2 separate regions of the Homo sapiens genome follow, and region 2 is linked to region 1. Evidence: fine-mapped expression QTL. A gene starts in region 1. The other region holds a variant in brackets. All regions are shown on one strand. Distances are from middle to middle. Region 1 holds the start of PIGW (phosphatidylinositol glycan anchor biosynthesis class W). Region 2 overlaps GGNBP2 (gametogenetin binding protein 2).

The links. PIP is the estimated chance that this variant, and not a neighbour inherited with it, causes the effect.
Region 2: its variant is fine-mapped to the expression of PIGW in whole blood (INTERVAL, PIP 0.97).

Annotation. Positions count from the first base shown.
Region 1 is chr17:36,529,110-36,539,856 of GRCh38, forward strand. It overlaps PIGW (phosphatidylinositol glycan anchor biosynthesis class W), which reads left to right and starts at 5,878. Exons shown (of 2, transcript NM_001346754.2): 1 at 5,878-6,483; 2 at 7,985-10,194. The coding sequence starts at 7,993. The coding sequence ends at 9,507. It overlaps MYO19 (myosin XIX), which reads right to left and starts at 5,759. Exons shown (of 26, transcript NM_001163735.2): 1 at 5,652-5,759; 2 at 4,844-4,995; 3 at 3,418-3,572. The coding sequence starts at 3,429. RefSeq lists an enhancer at 4,450-5,125.
Region 2 is chr17:36,573,093-36,583,839 of GRCh38, forward strand. It overlaps GGNBP2 (gametogenetin binding protein 2), which reads left to right. Exons shown (of 14, transcript NM_024835.5): 7 at 4,891-5,094; 8 at 6,153-6,327; 9 at 8,252-8,446. It also overlaps the pseudogene RPS2P50. Among named protein-coding and RNA genes, the nearest start is that of DHRS11, 13 kb to the right of the region's middle. The variant G/T (reference allele first, on the strand shown) is at 3,965.

The DNA of each region.
Region 1 (10,747 bases):
AATAAGCACCAAGGGAACAGGTCCTTTCTCCTCCCTTGCCTATCTTTTTTTTTTCCTTTCTTTTTTAAGAGATGGAGTCTTGCTCTGCTACCCAGGCTGCAGTGCAGTGGCATGATCATATCTCACTGCAGCCTCCAACTCCTGAGCTCAAGTGATCCTTCTGCCTCAGCTTCCTGAGTAATTGGGACTAGAGGCATGAGTCACCCTATCTTCCTTTGCCCATTCTTGATGTATCATCCCTCCACTTCCTCCTGTGGTCCCATTTCTCCTACTGTCTCCTTTGGGGATGCAGGAAAGACAGAGTGGGGGTTGAAGACAGGTATCTTGCTGAAATGTGCTTTTGAAGGAAGAGGTCTGTGATACAACAGGTGAATTTCCAATGAGAATGGTGAGCCTAAAATTTCAAATCTCTCATAGAAATAAGCCATGGTGGCAAATTTCCTCCAAGAGGCCCAGTAATGCATTTCTTCCAAAACTGTTGCCTGTTCTCTGAACTTTGGGCCCACTATAATGCACAAGGTAGGCTCTTGGCCTCCAGAGTAACTGCGGAGGTCAGAGCACAGCTATATCTATGCATATCCCTCTCCTTTTATGAAGGGGAAAAAAAAACCACCACTACACAAACCATTCACAAACACAGACACAATTTATGAAGAGTTCTGATCCAACCAGAGAGGCATCTGAGTATAGTGATCAAGTACCTGGACTTGAAAGTTAGTTGTCTGGCTCTGAATCCTGACTCTATCTCTTACAGTTATATACTCTTATGTTAATTTCTTAATCTCTTTCTGCCTCAATTCTCCTCATCTGGTCCCTGTAATCCCAGCTACTTGGGAGGCTTAGGTAGAAGAACCACTTGGGCCTAAAAGTTCGAGGCTGCAATGAGTTATGATTGTACCGCTGCACTCTAGCCTGGCCAACAGAGCAAGACCTTGTCTCTAAAGTAAAAAATAAAAATAGAAAAATTTCCAGCTGGCCATAGTGGCTTAAGCCTGTAATCCCAGCACTTAGGGAGGCCAAGGTGACCCTGTCTCTATAAAAAATATTTAAAAATTAGCTGGGCATTATGGCATGTGCCTGTAACCCCAGCTATTCTAGAGGCTGAGGCAGGAGGGTTGCTTCAGCCCAGGAGGTCGAGGCTACAGTGAGCTATGGGGATATCACTGCACTGGGCAACAAAGTGAGACCCTGTCTCTAAATAATTATTTAAAGTTCTTTTCTGTAAAATGGGATAATGGTACCTACCTCACAGATACTCACAAGCACAAAAACACACGAAGGATTTAGAAAGGCCATCTGGAATCTGCCAAAAGGGGTTAGCTATTCTTCTTCTAAAAGTGGCTTTTTTTTTTTTTTTTTTTTTTTGAGACGGAGTTTCGCTCTGTCGCCCAGGCTGGAGTGCAGTGGCGCGATCTCGACTCACTGCAAGCTCCGCCTCCCGGGTTCACGCCATTCTCCTGCCTCAGCCTCCTGTGTAGCTGGGACTACAGGCACGCGTAAAAGTGGCTTTTGTATTTTTTTTTTTTTTTGACACAGAGTCTCGCTCTATCGCCCAGGCTGGAGTGCAGTGGCACAATCTCGGCTCACTGCAACCACTGTCTCCCAGGTTCAAGTGATTCTCATGCCTCAGCCACCCAAGTAACTGGGATCACAGGCATGCACCACCATACCTGGCTAGTTTTTGTATTTTTAGTAGAAATGGGGTTTTGCCATGTTGGCCAGACTGGTCTTGAACTCCTGGCCTCAGGTGATCTGCCCGCCTCGACCTCCCAAAGTATTGGGATTACAGGCATGAGCCACCGTGCCTGGCCTTATTTATTTATTTATTTAAGAGACAGGGTCTCACGGCTGGGTGCGGTGGCTCACCCCTGTAAAAGCACTTTGGGAGGCTGAGGCAGACGGATCACTTGAGGTCAGGAGTTTGAGACCAGCCTTGTCTACAGAGTGAGACTCCATCTCTAAAATAAAAATAAATAAACAAAAATTATTAAAAAAAATTTGGAGGCTGGGCGCGGTGGCTCACGCCTGTAGTCCCAGCACTTTGGGAGGCCGAGGTGGGTGGATCACGAGGTCAGGAGATCGAGACCATCCTGGCTAACACGGTGAAACCCCATCTCTACTAAAAAATACAAAAAATTAGCCAGGCGTGGTGGCCAGCACCAGTAGTCCCAACTACTCGGGAGGCTGAGGCAGGAGAATAGCATGAACCTGGGAGGCAGAGATTGCAGTGAGCCAAGATCAAGCCACTACACTCCAGCCTGGATGACAGGGTGAGACTCCATCTCAAAAAAAAAAAAAAAAAAAAAATTGGAAAATAGAGATAAGCAAAAGGAGCATAAAAATCCATAATCATACTACCCAGAAATAACCAATATTTTAGAGAATATCATAGGTTTTTTCCCCTACATACTTTAAAAACATTGAAAAGTATTATATTTTTGTGTAACTTGCTTTATTCCATTGTATTGATATACCTTTTTTTTAATAAGAGAAAAAAAAAGTTTAAAAATAAGCAAGAAAAAAGCCCAGAGCAGTCAACTGTTTTGCCCACTTCTTACCTTCAAACCTGTTCCAGGAGCCATATGGCTGGAAGGTCAAGCTGCAGTGTCTACTATGGCTCCCTTGATGCTGGCAGGCCCCACACCTGGCTGCTACCTTGCTGATGTCAGGCACTTACCTACCCAAGACTCCACTAGACTCTGAGCTCCTTGAGGGCAAGCACCAACCTCAACATCTGCCTCAGCCCAGTGCCTGGCAACACTTGGTAAAATAAAAAGTCAGCAAATAAGTACTGGCACTCTCTCAGGACCAAGAGTTACACATGAAGGATGATATGGGTATGAGAGAGAGCTCCGCTGTAAAAGGTGATTTGGAATCCTACAGGCCTGGGGCAACAGTAGCCTTTTCAGAGAGGCAGAGACATGGGGATCATGTAACCCATGATCCACTCATTAGAATCCTTCTATATTTCCTCATAGTCTCCTACATTTCTGCACAGGCTGACCTCTTTGCCTGGAGTGCTTATTTTCCTTCTCCAAGTGGCTAATTCTTTCTAGTTCTTTAAGGCTTAGCTTCAAGGAACACATCCTCTTGGAAGCCCCAGGCTTCTACTATGCCTCAACAATTCAGGTGGCAGGGACATCTCTCAGGACTTCCTCTGCAGAATCCCCAAAGTGCCCTAAGGATTCCCTTACCCATCCCACCTTACCTATCCCAAAGAAAGGAGCTAAAAACCACAAGACAGATTCAAATTAGGTATCAGGAAGAGTTTCTTGATGATGAGTAAAAGGCACTGGAGAGACAATTTGAGGAGAGAAAAGAGACCTTTAAGGGGGCTTTCCCTTCCTTCCAGGTTAGGGCTAGCAACAGATGCTGCAGGTGCTTGAGGGCCTGGGTTATCTAAGGTTGAGGTTTTACCTGCTGGAGCATCCTCCTTCAAAGTGGTCAGCCAGGGTTCTGGGTTGCAGGAGGTACAAGGAGTACTATCCACCTAGTCATGGGACCATGGGCTGGGGTATGGTTCCAACAAAGGGCTCAGTTCTGGAGGAATCTCAGACAAGTCACTCCAGCGCCTGTGGCATGAGAGAGAAGACAAGGACCACACACAGGTGAGGGCTTTTCTGGAGTGACTCACTCACTCCTTCCCACCTAGCAGAAGCAACCAAAATGAGATGCAAGGCAGGCCTGGGCGGAGAGTGGGCCTGTCCTTTCCCTTGCCAATTAGGAGACAGGGAAACTTTTATGAGAGCCTCAGAGGCTCCCTGGGCCAGTTTTATTACAGGGTTAGGGTTTGGGTTGGGGTGGGGCTGCAAACCCTCTGGGTCAGTGTGCCATGGAGGAGGAGTAAGACACTGGGGAGACAGAGAAGCCTTGTGCCCTATCCTCTACATTAGACAGAAATATCCTATTTCAGTCGTTGGTGAGGAGGAGAGGCTGGAGTCATCTCTCGCTGCTCCAGGAAAGGTGTGGTGTGGTAGTTTATATCACAGTTCAATCACTCACTGGGTGTGTGATCCTGGGTCAGGCACATCACCTACCTCAATTTCTTACCTTGAAAATGGGGACAGTTAAATCTGCCTCATAAGGAGTGGTTGTGAAGGTCAATGAGGTCATGGTTTGACAGCACCACACAAAGTACGAATCTGAGTATTCACTCAGAGGATAAACACTGTTAGCACTACGACTAAGGGTTGATGATCCATTTGGGAGCGCTAATCAGGTGAACGGTCCAGTGTCAACTTCAAGAAGGTGAGGATTTCAGGGAGATGAATCCATCTGGGAGGTGGGGTGTTGTGAGGCTGGGCCTAAGCCAATCTTTGAAGAATGGTTAAGTGACCCTCAGACTTGGAATTTTCTAGGCCTTGGCACCACCCCTAGCAAGGAGAGATGAGGCTGAGGGTGAAGCGTGCCTGCAATGGATTAACCCTGGTGGAGACTTTCTTGAGGCTCTGAATACATCAAGTCTTTAAAGAACCCAGGGATAGGGACTTCCATAGAAGCTGGAAAAAGGACAATTGAGGCGGAAACAGGTATCAGGACCGTGCTGGACCACTTAAGGTGTGGTGCTACAGCCCTAAAAGATCCTGACCCTGGACACTGACTGTACCCCATCCAAGGGACAGCCATGCAGAGGGCTCCAGAGAACAAAGCTCTTTCAACTGGGAACTCATCTCAAGCAATAGGTCCAGAGGGGCAGCACAACAGGTTTGGGGTTTGAATCCAAAACCCAAGGCCCCTGGCACAGAACCCAAGAACTAAGCCTCACTCTGTTTCCTCGTTTACAAAACGGAGTGATAATATCCAGATCTCACGGGGCTAAATGAAGCGTTAAAGGGGCTAATACCTGTGAAAGCGCTCTGCAAATGTTATTACGATGCAGCATCAGCTCCTAGCTGGAGTCAAGTGAGATTAGAGCAGTTTTCTCCAGTTCTCCCAGCTCCTGCTCCAGTCGGTTTCGCGGTTACCAGCCAAGAATTTCTGGAAAGGGTGTGAACACTGTGGGCAGAAAGGAGACGGTAATGAGTAAATGGAACACCGAATCAAGGCAAGTGGCAACCTGATCACCAGTCCCTCCTTCTCAGACTGTTTCTTTCTAGGCATGGAGGACAGTGGGAGGGCAGACGCTGAGAAGCGCTGGGTAAGGATCTCATCAGTCCAGCTGGCTCCGCCCCCAGGTTCCCGGCGGGAACCGGGGACTCAAGGTCCGGGCGTCGTGCCGCAAACCCAGGGCTGGGATGCCGTTCCGGAAGCACCTGGCACGGGGAGAGTATGTCCTTCCCAGGAAGGTGGACGTGACCCCAGCCAAGGGCGCAGCTGCCCTGACACCTCCCGGGACCAGCCGCCCCCTCCCGGGGTCCTCAGCTGGGCGAAGAGTGGAGCAAGGACCCTCTCCCCCCAGGCCGCCCCCTGCCGGCCAGGTGGAAAGGTGGAGGGTGATCAAGAAAGACTTGTTTCAAGCAAGAGCCAAGAGCTGGGCTACCCCCTCGTGAGACACAAGAGGGTCAAAAGGAAAAGGCAAAAAGGAGGGAAACGGCGCTTTGGAAGGGGAGGTGGAGACGCCTACTTCTTCCTCACCGCTGCGGGGCAAACTGGCCTCCCAAGCCCCTTCCGCGTCTGAAGGGCTTCAGATATAGGTTCGGGTTGACACTCACCGGTCCCACGGCCCGAGCCGCCGTGCTTCAGGCCCCCGCCCGGCCAGACTGGAAAGGCGGGCGGGCCAGGTCAGGCGGCGGGAAGAACACGGGCAGGAGAGAAAAGAGGAGGGGCAAGAGCGTGCAGTGAGGAAAGGAACCTGGGAGCGCCGAACCGCACCCCGTCGGCTGCGGCACTGCTAAGTGGCCGGGGGTCGGCCGGCTCCTCCCTAGGGGCGGGGCGAGCACTCGCGGCGCGGGGCGCGCACGTGGCTTGGCCGGGACGCCTGGTCCGGCTTGCTGGCTTCAACTACGGTGAGATGTTTTGCGACCCTGGGGTAAAATGAGGGTAAAGCGGCAGCTTCCCACGTTCTGGGGGAGAAGCGCGGAAGCACGGTTTCCTGGGCCTTCGGGCGACACCAGGACTGGGGGTCTTTCAGTAGAGGTCGCCGCGGCGGAGTCTTGTGCGAGTGCGGCGGAGTGTTGTGCGAGGCCGGCGGACACCATTACCCTGATAGGGCCTCGCCGTGAGGTCTGAGGGGCCGTGTGAGGTGCATGGCGCGCCGTTTCCTCTCCAGGCGCTCCTCTCAGGGCTACGGCCCTAGAAGATCTGGCCTGCACCAGCCCAAAGGACATGACAGGAGTGGGTAGCCCACGGGACACTGGCACGAGCGCCATGATGGGCGGAGACGCGCGGAATCGGCCGGCCCGGAAGTGCCAGCTGCCTGCGTCGGCCGGAAGTGCCGCGCGGGAGGCGGAAGCGGCTGGTTCCCGCGTGGTTTGGCGGGTGCAGCGGCAGTCCGGCTGCCCTTCCCACGTAGACCGTCTGCTGGGGGCGCCGGCACCATTTGGAGTACGTGAGGTATACGGGTAGGGCGCGGCCAGGTCGGGCGTCTGTTAGGAAAAAGACTTTTTATTTTTATGTTTATTTTTTAAGAGACGGAGTCTCGCTCTGTCGCCCAGGTAGGAGTGCAGTGGCGCGATCTCGGCTCACTGCTGCCTTCCACCTCTGGGCTCAAGCGATCCTCCCGCCTCAGCCTGGCATTACAGGCGCGCACCACCACGCTCAGCTAATTTTTAATTTTTCTTTTTTTTTTTTTCACTCCTGGCCTTAAGCGATCCTCTCTCCTCCCAAAGCGCTAGGATTGCAGGCATGAACCACTTCTCTCGGCTAGGACTTTTATTTTTAATGGTCAACTGATTTGAGTTGGTTACTGTGAGATATTGTCACAGGTTCCAGACAGGCCATAATGCACGCATGCATTCACTTACTTATTCAGCTCATGGTACATTTAGAAACTCTAGGTTCATGTTTAACCAACAAATGTGTTCTTCCAGTATGCCGTTTTTCAGACAATGATGTGTGGCATTCAGAGGTGTTTTACAACCCTTAATAAAAGAGCAACTAACACTAGTATGTGCTATACATCCATTCTTAATGCACCCACCGTACCTACTTCCATCCTAACCTGAAAACATAGCTGTCTGTAAATGAGGAAAGGAGCAGCCTGGGGATCCAGAAATCACTGCAGGGGTCACGTTTTGTACCAAGGCAGTAGGTTTGGAGAGGCTCTGAACTGGAACCAAGGCCCCCAACTTCAAAATGTACTTGGCCCCTAGCGTTTGAATTTGCTTTAAGGTCATTAGTAAATCCTATTCAATTTGCATCAAAGAATCTTCATGATACGTACTGTGCTCCATAATAGAAATTCCCATCTGCCTATGATGCCATTCTCAGAGTTTATATCCCAAATTCGCTCTCTTTTCCTTTGCTTTTTCTTTTCCTTTTTTTTTTTTTTTTTTTGAGATGGAGTCTCACTCTGTGGCCCAGGCTGGAGTGCAATGGCTCACTCCAACCTCTGCTTCCCCGGTTCAACCGATTCTCCTGCCTCAGCCTCTAAAGTAGCTGGGATTACAGGCGGGTGCCATCACGCCTGGCTAATTTTTGTATTTTTAGTAGAGACGGGCTTTCACCATGTTGACCAGGCTGGTCTCGAACTCCTGACCTCAGGTGATCCTCCCACCTCGGCCTCCCGAAGTGCTAGGATTACAGGTGTGAGCCACCACGCCTGGCCCCAAATTCACTTTCTTTGTGAGTCTGTCTTGTACAGGGAATAGCTGAAGCTTTGTAACCAATAATTTAATATTATTAGTATGACATTTCTATCTGAACACATTAGTGTTAAGCTTCTTCCCACAATCCTTGGAAGGGGAATCACAAATCCTAGGTGAACTCATTAGGGCCCAAAGTTCTGCTCTGAAATCTAGTAATAAGAGTAAAATTAAGCCAGGTATGCTAATTACACAAGAATGCTGCTTTTCACAAATCCATTCCTTTGCTCTTGTTTTCACAGGAAGAAAAATGTCTGAAAAGCAGATGAAGGAAGCTTTTGTCAGTAACCTCAATGGAACCACCGTGCTGGAAATCACCCAGGGATTGTGCTTTCCTGCATTCTGTATCCTGTGCAGAGGGTTCCTGATCATTTTCTCACAGTACTTGTGTTCTTTTTCACCTACCTGGAAAACTAGATTCCTCACTGACTTTGTTGTCCTAATAGTTCCCATGGTAGCCACTTTGACCATTTGGGCTTCATTTATCCTCCTTGAGCTTCTCGGTGTAATTATCTTTGGGGCAGGGCTGTTGTATCAAATATACCGAAGGAGGACCTGCTATGCCAGACTGCCTTTCCTAAAAATCCTTGAAAAATTCTTGAACATCAGTCTAGAATCAGAATACAATCCAGCCATCTCCTGTTTCCGTGTAATTACCAGTGCGTTTACTGCTATTGCTATTTTGGCTGTGGACTTCCCACTTTTTCCCAGAAGATTTGCCAAAACTGAGCTCTATGGGACAGGAGCAATGGATTTTGGAGTAGGTGGCTTTGTTTTTGGGTCTGCAATGGTTTGTCTAGAGGTCAGGAGGAGAAAATATATGGAAGGGTCCAAATTGCATTACTTTACAAACTCATTGTACTCTGTTTGGCCATTAGTCTTCCTAGGAATCGGACGATTAGCCATTATAAAATCAATAGGCTATCAGGAACATTTAACAGAGTATGGAGTTCACTGGAACTTTTTCTTTACCATAATAGTTGTGAAATTGATAACACCACTGCTGTTGATTATTTTTCCCCTAAATAAGTCCTGGATTATTGCCCTCGGCATTACTGTATTATACCAGCTAGCCCTTGACTTTACCTCACTGAAGAGGTTAATATTATATGGCACTGATGGTAGTGGCACACGGGTTGGTCTATTAAATGCCAACCGCGAAGGAATAATCTCTACCCTGGGGTATGTGGCAATACACATGGCTGGTGTGCAAACAGGGTTATATATGCATAAGAACCGATCACATATCAAAGACTTGATAAAAGTAGCCTGTTTTCTTTTACTGGCAGCTATTAGCCTCTTCATATCTCTTTACGTAGTTCAAGTAAATGTAGAAGCAGTATCTCGAAGAATGGCAAATTTAGCCTTTTGTATTTGGATAGTTGCTTCTAGCCTGATCCTTCTTAGTAGTTTATTACTGGGTGATATAATTTTGAGTTTTGCCAAATTTCTAATTAAAGGAGCTCTAGTACCATGTTCTTGGAAACTTATCCAGTCACCTGTTACAAATAAAAAGCATTCAGAATCTCTAGTCCCTGAAGCCGAAAGAATGGAACCCAGTCTTTGTTTAATCACAGCTCTAAACAGAAAACAGTTAATATTTTTCTTGCTGTCAAATATAACAACTGGCCTGATCAACCTGATGGTAGATACATTACACAGCAGTACCTTGTGGGCCTTATTTGTGGTCAATCTCTATATGTTTTCCAACTGTTTAATTGTATATGTACTATATTTGCAAGATAAGACTGTACAATTTTGGTGATCAGCAGGAGTAGGATATATAAGTATTTGGGCAATATTTAATGAGGAATATTAATTGTAAAGAAATTGTGCTTTTGGCAACAGTGTTAACCATATTTTATTATAAAATAGTTTCAGTCATCTAAACAGCAGTGATGCTTAATTATTTTTTTTTTTGAGACAGAGTCTTGCTCTGTTACCCAGGCTGGAGTGTAGTGGTGCCATCTCAGCTCACTGCAACCTCCACCTCCCGGGTTCAAGCAATTCTCCTGCCTCAGCCTCCTGAGTAGCTGGCACTGTAGGCATGTACCACCATGCCCAGCTAATTTTTATATTTTTAGTAGAGATGGGGTTTTGCCATATTGGCCAGGCTGGTCTCAAACTCCTGAACTCAAGTGATAACACCCACCTTGGCCTCCCAAAGTGCTGGGATTACAGGTGTGAGCCACCACACTGGGCCAATGCTTAATATTTTAATGTATCTCAACAATAAAACCAAGAAGAAACAAAGCCTTTTGACTTGTTAGAATGTATTAAGTAGTATTTTAAAGAAACTTTATAGTTGTGACATTGAAAGACTGTTGGGGTGGGGGGAGGAAAATTTTTACTTTCCATCTTAATGTAACCTTATGCTATTCTGTATTTTTACTGTATATTGCTTTTACAATAAATATAAAATGAAATGTTTATGTTGACATTTCAGTGTGAACTGTGGATTGTCAATACTTGTTTATTGCTCAATTTAAATTTTTGAATAAAACCTAGGACTAAGAAGCAAGTGTTTAAAATCAAACACTCCAATGTGCAGATGGGTGGATATAAAAAGAAAAATTTTAAAAATAAAATACTTATATACTATGAAGTCAGACAGTTAAATGCACCAAAGAATAGATGGAAGGCTGGGCATGGTGACTCACGCCTGTAATCCTAGCACTTTGGGAGGCTGAGGTGGGAGGATTGCTTGGGCCCAGGAGTTCAAGACCATCCTGGGAAACAGTGAGACCCTGTCTACAAAAAAAAAAATAGACTGAATTGGATGTTATATTATAGCTTATACACATAATAATTACGAGACAAAGTTTTGCTTTGGGATTAATTCATCTTTTAGCCTACCCTATGCTAGGGATTTAAGAAGCACAGCACAAATTTCCTGATACCTCAGAGCTTGCAATCTAGTGGAGGAAACAGACATTAAACATCTATTGTGAAATGCTAAGTTATGAAGAAAAAGCATAGGTTGTCAAGAGTGTCAAATCAAGAAC
Region 2 (10,747 bases), 44 kb after region 1:
TATATGTGATATTATTCACTTTTCTTTTTTCTTTTTTTTTGAGACAGTCTCGCTCTGTTGCCCAGGCAGGGGTGCAGTGGCTTGATCTCGGTTCACTGCAACCTCCGCCTCCCGAGTTCAAGTGATTCTCCTGCCTCAGCCTCCTGAGTAGCTGGGATTACAGGCACACACCACCACACCTGGCTAATTTTTGTGTTTTTAGTAGAGACAGGGTTTCACCTTGTTGGTCAGGCTGGTCTTGAACTCCAGACCTCAAGTGATCCATTCGCCTCGGTCTCCCAAAGTGCTGGGATTACCGCACCTGGCTATTCACATTTCTTTGTCCATTCATACATTGATGGACATTGAAGGTTGCTCTCACATTTCGCCTGTTGTCAATAAATGCTGCAGTGAACATGAGTGTGCAAATATCTCTTCAAGATCCTTGCTATCAGTTCTTTTGGATATATACCTAGAAGTGGGATTCCTGGATCGTATGGTAGTTTTATTTTGAAGAACTTCCGTACCGGTTTCCATAGCAGCTGTACCGTTTTATATTCCTGCCAGCAGTGCATAAGGGTTCCAATTTCTTCACATCCTCAGTAACACTTGTTATTTGTTGTTGTTGTTGTTTTGATAGTGGTCATTCTAGTTGGTTTAAGGTGATATCTCATTGTGTTTTTGATGTGCATTTTCCTGATGATTAGTGATGTTGAGCATCTTTTCATATGTTTGCTGGCCATTTGTATATAATCTTTGGAGAAATGTCGATTCATGCTTTGCCCATTTATTTATTTACTTTTAAGTTATTTTATTTTTTTGACAGGATCTTCTTTGTTGCCCAGGCTGGAGTGCAGTGGCATGATCACGGCTTTGCCCATTTTTAAATTAAGCTATTTTTTTTGTGATTGAGTTCTAGTGGTTCTTTATATTCTGGCTATTAACCCCTTATTCAATATATGGTTTGCAAATATTTTTTCCCATTCTTTGGGTTGCCTTTTTACTCTGTTGATCATCTTTGCTGTGCCAACGTTTTTAAGTTTAATGCATAGTCATGTGCTATGTGATGACATTTTGGTCAGTGATAGACCACATATATGACAGTGGGCCCGTAAGATTATAATGGAGCATACTGCGTTGCAGATCAAGTAGAGGAAATGATTAATATTCAGTGATGGTGCTGGGACATTTGGTTTTCCATGTGAAAAAAATATAAATAAAAATATGTATACTACCTAGGTTTGTGTAAGTACACTCTGATGTTCGCACAGCAACAAAATAGCTAACAATGCATTTCTCAGAATGTGTCCCATTGTTAAGTGACACGACTGTAGTCTTTTTTTTTTTTTTCAGGCTTAATTCACTTTATTTTTCTTGTATAAAAACCCTGTGTTGTAGCCACAGCTGGAGCCTGGGTCCTCTGCATGGAGACTCTGGTGTGGGTCTTGACGAGATGGTCAGTGAATTCCTGACAGGAAGACTTGATGAATACAGTCTCCTTCCAGAGGTCGGGGGTCAGGTAGCTGTAGGTCTTAGAGATGGCATCAAAGGTGTCCTTGGTATAGTTACCCAGGGCGGCAGTGTAGCCCCTGGCTAAGGTGTAGCAGTCATCAATACCAGCCATCATAAGCAGCTTCTTGGGTACAGGCACTGAGACGATGCCAGTGCCTCTGGGCGTAGGGATGAGGCGCACCAGCACAGAGCCGTGGTGGCCTGTCGGCTTGCAAGGGATGGTGTGGGGCTTGCTGATCTTGTTCCCCCAGTAGCCTCTGTGCACAGGGACAATAGAGAGCTTGGCCAGGATGATGGCCCCGTGGATGGCAGTGGCCACCTCCTTGGAGCACTTAACACCCAGACCGATGTGGCCATTGTAGTCCACGATGGCAACAAACATCTTGAACCTGGTGCGCTGGCCGGCACGGGTCTGCTTCTGCACTGGCATAATCTTCAAAACCTCGTCCTTGAGAGAGGCCCCCAGGAAAAAGTTAGTGATCTCAGATTCCTTCATGGGCAGGGAGAAGACATACATCTCCTCCAGGGACTTGATCTTCATGTGCTTGACCAGGCGGCCCAGCTTGGTGATAGGCATCCACTCTTTATCCTCGGCCTTGCCTCCATGAGCTCTGCGGCCTCAGCCGCGGCCTCAGCCCCAGCCCCGGCCCCGGATGCCACTGCCGAAACCTCCACGGAAGCCACTGCATTTCCCCATCCCAGGCGATCCCCACCACCGGCTGCCACCAGCATCATCTGCCATTTGGTGTTTTCTCAGAGAAGCATCTATTTTTGTTTTTGTTGTGCATGTGTGCTTTTGGTGTCATAGCCAGGAAATCATCACTTAGTCCAGTGTCATGAAGAGTTTCCCCTATGTTTTCTTCTAGTTTTATGGTTTTCAGATGTTAACATTTAGTTTTTAATCCATTTTGTGTTAATTTTTGTATATTTTTGCCCATATTTAAAACTTTAGTGAAATAACATAATTTAACATTATTTGTCAGCATTGTTGCCTCTGTTTACCAAGTGGGCTTAGAGCCTCTAATGTAACATATATATATATATATATATATATATATATATATATTTTTTTTTTTTTTTGAGATGGAGTTTCGCTCTTCTTATGCAGGCTGGAGTGCAGTGGTGCGATCTTGGCTCACTGCAACCTCTGCCTCCCGGGTTCAAGCAATTCTCCTGCCTCAGCCTCCTGAGTAGCTGGGATTACAGGTGTATGCCACCACATCTGGCTAATATTTGTATTTTTAGTAGAGACGGGGTTTCACCATGTTGGCCAGGCTGATCTCGAACTCCTGAGCTCAGATGATCCACCCGCCTTTGCCTCCCAAAGGGCTGGGATTACAGACGTGAGCCACCGCGCCCAGCCCATATCTTCATTTTAAGAAACATTGTTATCTACTATTGGTCCAGCAAAACGTGTGTGCATGAAACAAAGATATGGCAGTAGAAGGGTAAATACTATAGTAAGAAGTCTAGGCCGGGCGTGGTGGCTGATGCTTGTAATCCCAACACTTTGGGAGGCTGAGGTGGAGGGATCACTTTGAGGTCAGAAGTTCAAGACCAGCCTGGCCAACATGGTGAAACCCCATCTGCACTAAAAACACAAAAATCAGCCCAGTGTGGTGGTGGGCGCATGCAATCCCTCCTACTCAGGAGTCTGAGGTACGAGAATTGCTTGAACCTGGGGGGCGGTGGTTGCAGTGAGCCATGATTGTCCCGCTGCACTCTAGCTTAGTTTAGGCGGACAGATCCTCTGAGTTCAAGAGTTCAAGACCAGCCTGGCCAACTTGGCGAAACCCTGTCTCTACTAAAAAATACAAAAAATTTGCTGGGTGTAGTGGTGGGCGCCTGTAATCCCAGCGACTCGGGAGACTGAGGCAGGAGAATCGCTTGAACCCAGGAGGCAGAGGTTACAGTGAGCCTCGATGGCGCCACTGCACTCCAGCCTGGGCAACAGAGAGAGACTCTGTCTCAAAAAAAAAAAAAAAAAAAAAAAAAAAAAAAATATATATATATGTGTGTGTGTGTGTGTGTGTGTGTGTGTGTGTGTATATGTATATATGTATATGTATATATATGTATATATATGTGTATATATATATATATAGCATAGGCAACTTAAACCATGCCAGAGGGAATTGAAAATAGGGACCTACAGGAGAAACAAGAAAGAATGAATACTAGTTGGCTCTACTCAATAGGAAGACCCAGGGAGAAGTTGGAATTAACTCAGATTTCCAGCCTGGGTGACTCTGAATGGCTGTGAATGGCAGTGTTCTTATTAACAGGGATTGAGAAGGCACATAGGAATAGAACAGCATTACCCTTGGACAGTGAATTTAAGGTGTTGCCTATTGGACATCTGCCATGTCTTGTCACTTTTCGATATGGGTCTGGCCCTCAGGCAATAGCAGAGATTTGAATGGAGCTGTAGAGTCACAAGTCATCTTTATAGACATGTTAGTTGAAGCCATAC[G/T]CATAGATGAGCTCATCTGGGAGATGAATTTAAATCAAAGAGATCAAAATTTCCTTGTTTCACTTAACTAATCTTCTTAGCCATTTACTCTTATTGTGAGCCTGGCTTTTCCACCTGACCAAGTTCTTCTTGTTCCAGGAATTCAAAGATAAAGAAACCAGGCTCTATTATTTCTTTCTGATTGATTGATATTTGGTTTCTAAAAGAAATTTTCTTCCTTCTCTACATTCACAAACTCTTCTATTCTTTTGCCACATTTTATACACTTAAGTTTAAACCAGTTTCCATGTATATTTTGTCTATATTATGTTTGTTATTGAGAAATAGGCATTTTTGGGAAGAAAGAATTTGGCATTTTGGAAATAATCAGAAAATTAAAAAATGCACACACCACTTTCCCATTCTTCTCCCCACCCCAACCCCTACCCCTATCCTCAAATGCTTAGCTAGTGAAATATTAAAATGTTGTAATAGAAATTGGAGTCAAGGTCTCCTTGCTGAAGAGACCATCTATTTTCAGAGACTGGAAGGAGAGAGAACAAACCAATCAAGAGTCATTGGTTTGTTGCCTCTATTGTTTTATTTCTGACCTGCGCAAATAGCTTTTGAAGTGGAGATATGCTAGTTCTTGGCAACTAATACTTTTCTGGGCATGCATTTTATGAAATAATAGGTATGTATCTGCCTCATTCTTTTAGGCTATGTGTTTCTCTAGTTTAAAAATAATTTGCCAATGAAGGTCTATCTGTATTTATGCAATCCCTAAATTTGTATTTACCTTATGTGCGTATGTTTTAAATGTGTGTATGGAGGCTTATTTTGGATGCTGTAGATGGGAGAGAGTGCCATCATCTAGTACACTGTTATATGCCACAAGAAATAATTGCACAGCCATTTCTTAATTTTAAGGTTTTTCTTTTCAACAGGTTTTGCACTGATTGCAAAAATAAAGTCCTCCGAGCATACAATATCCTTATTGGTGAACTTGACTGCAGCAAAGAAAAGGGCTACTGTGCTGCACTTTATGAAGGCTTGCGGTGCTGTCCACATGAACGACACATACATGTTTGCTGTGAAACAGACTTCATTGCACATCTTTTGGGTCGTGCTGAGCCAGAGTTCGCAGGAGGGTATGAGTATGTAATTTGCTAGAATGGGCTATCTAGCGCTTTGCTTCATTTTATTACTGAAAGTTTATTTTCATCACCTTCTGCCTCAGTACATATGATATATGTATAAATTAAAGTATGCCTGTAAAGATTTTGCTTCTCTTTAAAGTATGCATTTCTTAATTGACTGAAAATAGGGAAAAACTGTTCTCTGGTGTTTGGTTCAGTCCTCTGCTAGTTCTTGCTTGAAGGGAGGCAGGCTTTTTTGGCTTTCATTGTTACAGACTATCATTTTCATTTGAAAATGATTAGAAGGGATTTTTCTCCCTCTATCCATGCATTATCATGTGTAAATTTTATTCACAATAATGGTTTTTGCATAAGTCAGATCTTTGCAGTAGGGGATTAAGAAATGCCTTATTGAATGTAATTCACGAACTGTGTATATTATATTATTATTACTACACAGAAACCTAAAGTAGTATCTCTGGCTTTGTTGTAAAAATAAAATCAGATGATGATGTTAATAGAATAAATCAAATGCATTTCCTTTTGTATTTAGGGTATCAACCCTCATTTGAGTGCCTACTTTCTGCTAGAATACAAAGGGCTTTTTTATCGCCAAAGTTCTGTGAACACTTGTAAAGACTGGCCTGGTGGAGGACTCTTGCCCATGATGAATCACTTTGGCATTGCCTTTCTCAATTCCTCCTCAAAACAAAAAACCTAAAGAAGGAAAAAATGTTTTGCTATAATTGGAAAGTAAAAGGAACTGTTGTGTCTACTATGAGCTGGACACTTCTATGTGATTGCTTTGTGCCCTAAAACCCATCTTTTTAGAGCCAGTTCCTGAATTACTTTATTTTTAGCAATACGAGGACTAAATTCTACTTGCATGTGTATTTCTCATTGGTTGTGGACATGCATGCTTGTATAGCAACATATACGTTGAGTGTAAATGTATAACTGTCTTGTTACTAGGTAAGCACATTGTGTTTAAAACCTGAACTTGCAGCTGTGTTATCCATCTTTTACTGTTTCAGTTAAAGGTATTAGTGTGTGATTATTCCCTTTTATAGGCGAAGAGAAAGGCATGCAAAGACAATAGATATAGCTCAAGAAGAAGTTCTGACCTGCTTGGGAATTCATCTTTATGAAAGACTGCATCGAATCTGGCAGAAGCTACGGGCAGAAGAGCAGACATGGCAGATGCTTTTCTATCTTGGTGTTGATGCTTTACGCAAGAGTTTTGAGGTAAGAACAGTGGGCTGTTCCAGTATCTCAGATTGCTTAGTCACGTTATTGGACTGAATCTTAATGTAAGCCACCAGTGCCTAAAAGGACTGTCCATCACTGATAGAGCTTCATGGATTTGGCTGGATATTGTTACATGGCTTTGGGTTGGAGTGGGGGTGGTCTAGGGAACTGGGATTTAGAAGAAGTTGATGGATTTAAAAAAATGTTTTTAATCCTGTTAACTTTGCTAGCTTTGGTTTTTAGACTTTCTCAGAGTAGAAAACTGAAGATGTTTAATAAGATGCTGCTATGAAACATAACTAGTGAGGCTGGGCATGGTGGCTTACGCCTGTAATCCCAGCACTTTGGGAGGACGAGGCAGGCGGATCACCTGAGGTCAGGAGTTTGAGACCAGCCTGACCAATATGATGAAACCCCGTCTCTACTAAAAATACAAAAATTAGCTGGGCGTGGTGGCGGGCACCTGTAATCCAGCTACTTGGGAGGCTGAGACAGGAGAGTTGCTTCAACCTGGGAGGTGGAGGTTGCAGTGAGCCAAGATCACGTCACTGCACTCCAGCCTGGGCAACAAGAACAAAACTCCGTCTCAAAACAAAAACAAAAACAAAAACAAAACAAAAAAAACACACATAACTAGTGAAAAGTTAAATGCCCCCAAGGATTAAGCAGGAAATGTTAAAACCTTCAGTGAGTTTCATTTTGCCTGCTAATGTCCAGTAGTATGAAGTAAATGCTGTGTGAATGCCATGGTATAAGGACTATTTTTCTTTCTTTCTTTTCTTTTCTTTTCTTTTTTTTTTTTTGAGACGGAGCCTCGCTCTGTTACCCAGGCTGGAGTGCAGTGGCATGATCTCGGCTCACTGCAAGCTCCACCTCCTGGGTTCACACCATTCTCCTGGCTCAGCCTCCCGAGTAGCTGGGACTGCAGGCGCCCGCCACCACGCTCGGCTAATTTTTTGTGTATTTTTAGTAGAGACAGGGTTTCACCATGTTAGTTAGGATGGTCTCAATCTCCTGACCTCGTGATCCGCTGCCTGCCTTGGCCTCCCAAAGTGCTGGGATTACAGGCATGAGCCACGGCGCCCAGCCCTTACTCGTTTTCTCTTTGTATTTTTGTACCTTCAGAGACTAGATCATCTAATCAGGTTAAATAGTTTTTTCATTATGTCAGTAAATGGTATGTTTACTTTTGTTGTGTTAAAATTCTGAAATTTAGGCCAGATATGGTGTCTCATGCCTGTAATCCCAGCACTTTGGGAGGCCAAGGTGGGCGGATCACTTGAGGCCAGGAGTTCGAGACCAACCTGGCCATGATGGCGAAACCCTGTCTCTACTAAATATACAAAAATCAGCCAGTGTGGTGGCGCATGCCTGTGGTCTCAGCTACTTGAGAGGCTGAGGCAGGAGAATCGCTTGAACCTGGGTGGTAGAGGTTGCAGTGAACTGAGATGGTGCCACTGTACTCCAGCCTGGGCGATGGAGCAAGACTCTGTCTCAAAAAAAAAAAAAATTCTGAAATTTAAAACTAGAATCTTGCTGGTTTGGAATAGGAGTGTGTATATTACCACAGAAAACAAAGGGACCGGGCACGGTGGCTCACGCCTGTAATCCCAGCACTTCGGGAGGCTGAGGCGGGTGGATCACGAGGTCAGGAGATCGAGACCATCCTGGCTAACACGGTGAAACCCCGTCTCTACTAAAAAATACAAAAAATTAGCCGGGCGTGGTGGCGGGCACCTGTAGTCCCAGCTACTTAGGAGGCTGAGGCAGGAGAATGGCGTGAACCCAGGAGGTGGAGCTTGCAGTGAGCTGAGATCATGCCACTGCACTCCAGTCTGGGCGACAGAGCAAGATTCCGTCTCAAAAAAAAAAGAAAAGAAGTTCTGACCAATATTCACCCTCAACCTTATTTTTATAATAGATGACCGTGGAAAAAGTACAGGGTATTAGCAGATTGGAACAACTTTGTGAGGAATTTTCAGAAGAGGAACGAGTAAGAGAACTCAAGCAAGAAAAGAAACGCCAAAAACGGAAGAATAGACGAAAAAATAAGTGTGTGTGTGATATTCCTACTCCCTTACAAACAGCAGATGAAAAGGAAGTAAGCCAAGAGAAGGTAATATTTCTTAATATCAACTCTTAAGTGTGTATGTATTGCTTGTAGATAGAAGTACAGGCCAGGTGTGGTGGCTCACGCCTGTGATCCCAGCACTTTGGGAGGCCCAGGGTGGAGGTATCACTTGAGCCTAGGAGTTTGGGACCAGCCTGGGCAAGATAGTGAGATCTCTATCTCTATTTATTTTATTTTATTTTTTTAATAAAAATAAAAAGTACAGTCGTCCCTTGGTATCTGTGGGGTTTGATTCCAGGACTTCCTGTAGATACCAAAATCTGCAGATGTGCAAGTCCCTGATGTAAAATGGTGTAATATTTGCATATAGTCTATGCACATCCTCCTTATACTTTTATTTCTGAGACAGGGTCTCACTCTGTCACCCGGACTGGAGTGCAGTGGCACAATCATGGCTCACTGCAGCGTTCATCTCCCAGGCTCATGTCATCTTCCCACCTCAGCTTCCCAAGTGGCTGGAACTACAGGCTTACCCCACCAGGCCCAGCTAATTTTTTGTATTTATTGTAGAGATGGCGTTTTACCATGTTGTTCAGGCTGGTCTCCAGCTTGTGGGCTCAAGCAATTCTCCCACCTCAGCCTCCCAAAATGCTACAATTACAGGCATGAACCACCGTGCCTGGCCTCTTGTATTCTTAAATTATCTCTAAATTATAATACCTAATGCAATGTAAAAGCTATGTAAGGCTGGGCATGGTGGCTCACGCCTGTAATCCCAGCTACTTGGGAGGCTGAGGCATGAGAATTTCTTGAACCCAGGAGGCAAAGGTTGCAGTGAGCCAAGATCGCTCCACTGCAGTCCAGCCTGGGCGACAGAGTGAAACTCTCTCAAAATAAATAAAAACTGTTTAAATAGTTGTTATACTGTATTGTTTAGAAAATAAGGACAAGAAAAAAGTCTGTACATGTTCAGTACAGATGCAGGTTGATTTTTTCCCCCCCAAATATTTTCGATTCTTGGTTGAATTTATGGATGCAGCACCCACAGATATGGAGGGTTAACTGTATGGCTTTTTGCTAGATTTGGGCATTTTTACTATGCTTTTCCAGATGTGAGCTCCTGCAGTTTTTATATCAGCTTTTTTCCTACTGTAGTCTGTATAAGCCAGAATTTTAATGTCATGTCTATGTTTTATTAAGACAATGTTGAGTAGTTATCTCTTTACCTGACTTTAATGTATTATTAGATCAAAGTCAAAATATAGAAAGCCACCTCTGTGCATGACCTAGAGCAGTTCTCAAGTTTTTGGTCTTAGGATCCCTTTACATTCTTAAAAATTAAGGTACTCAATGAGCTTTTGTTTATGTGGGTTATACTTACCAATATTTACTGTATTAGAAATTAAATGATAAATTTTAAGCTACTCCTTCAAAAATAATGTTAACTAAATATTTTTTCAAAAATAACTATTTTCTAAATAAAATGAGAGTGAGAAGAATGGTATTATACTATATATATTTTTTGCAAATATCTTTAATGTTCATCTTAAAAGGAATAAGCTAGATTCCTTTTTTTTTTGAGACAGAGTCTCGCTCTGTTGCCAGGCTGGAGTGCAGTGGCATGATCTCGGCTCACTGCAACCTCCGCCTCTCGGGTTCAAGCAATTCTCCTGCCTCAGCCACCCAAGTAGCTGGGGCTACAGGCGTGTGCCACCATGCCCGGCTAATTTTTGTATTTTTAGTAGAGACAGGGTTTCACCATGTTGGCCAGGATGGCCTCGATCTCTTGACCTCGTGATCCGCCCGCCTCAGCCTCCCAAAGTGCTGGGATTACAGGTGTGAGCCACCGCGCCTGACGGAATATACTAGATTCTTATATCTGCTTCTGCATTCAATCTGTTTCCATTTATTGGCTTGGTTGAAGCATATGAAGAAAGTCTAGTCTCACACAGATATTATATGGTAGGAAAAGTATTTTATTTTGGAGCAGAGTCTTGCTCTGTCACCCATGCTGGATTGCAGTGGCACAATCTTGGTTCACCGTAACTTCCTCCTCCTGGGTTCAAGCGATTTTTGTGCCTCAGCCTCCCAAGTAGCTGGGACTACAGGCGCCTACCACCATGCCCGGCTAATTTTTTTTTGTATTTTTAGTAGAGATGGGGTTTTGCCTTGTTGCCCAGGCTGGTCTCGAACTCCTGAGCTTAGGCAGTCTGCCCGCTTCTGCCTCCCAAAGTGCTGGGATTACAGGAATAAGCCACTGTGCCTGGCTGGGAGCAGTATTTTAATATAAACCTTTTCAGATAGTTGTGGATATTCTTCAATACTACACTTTGACCAGTGGTAGTT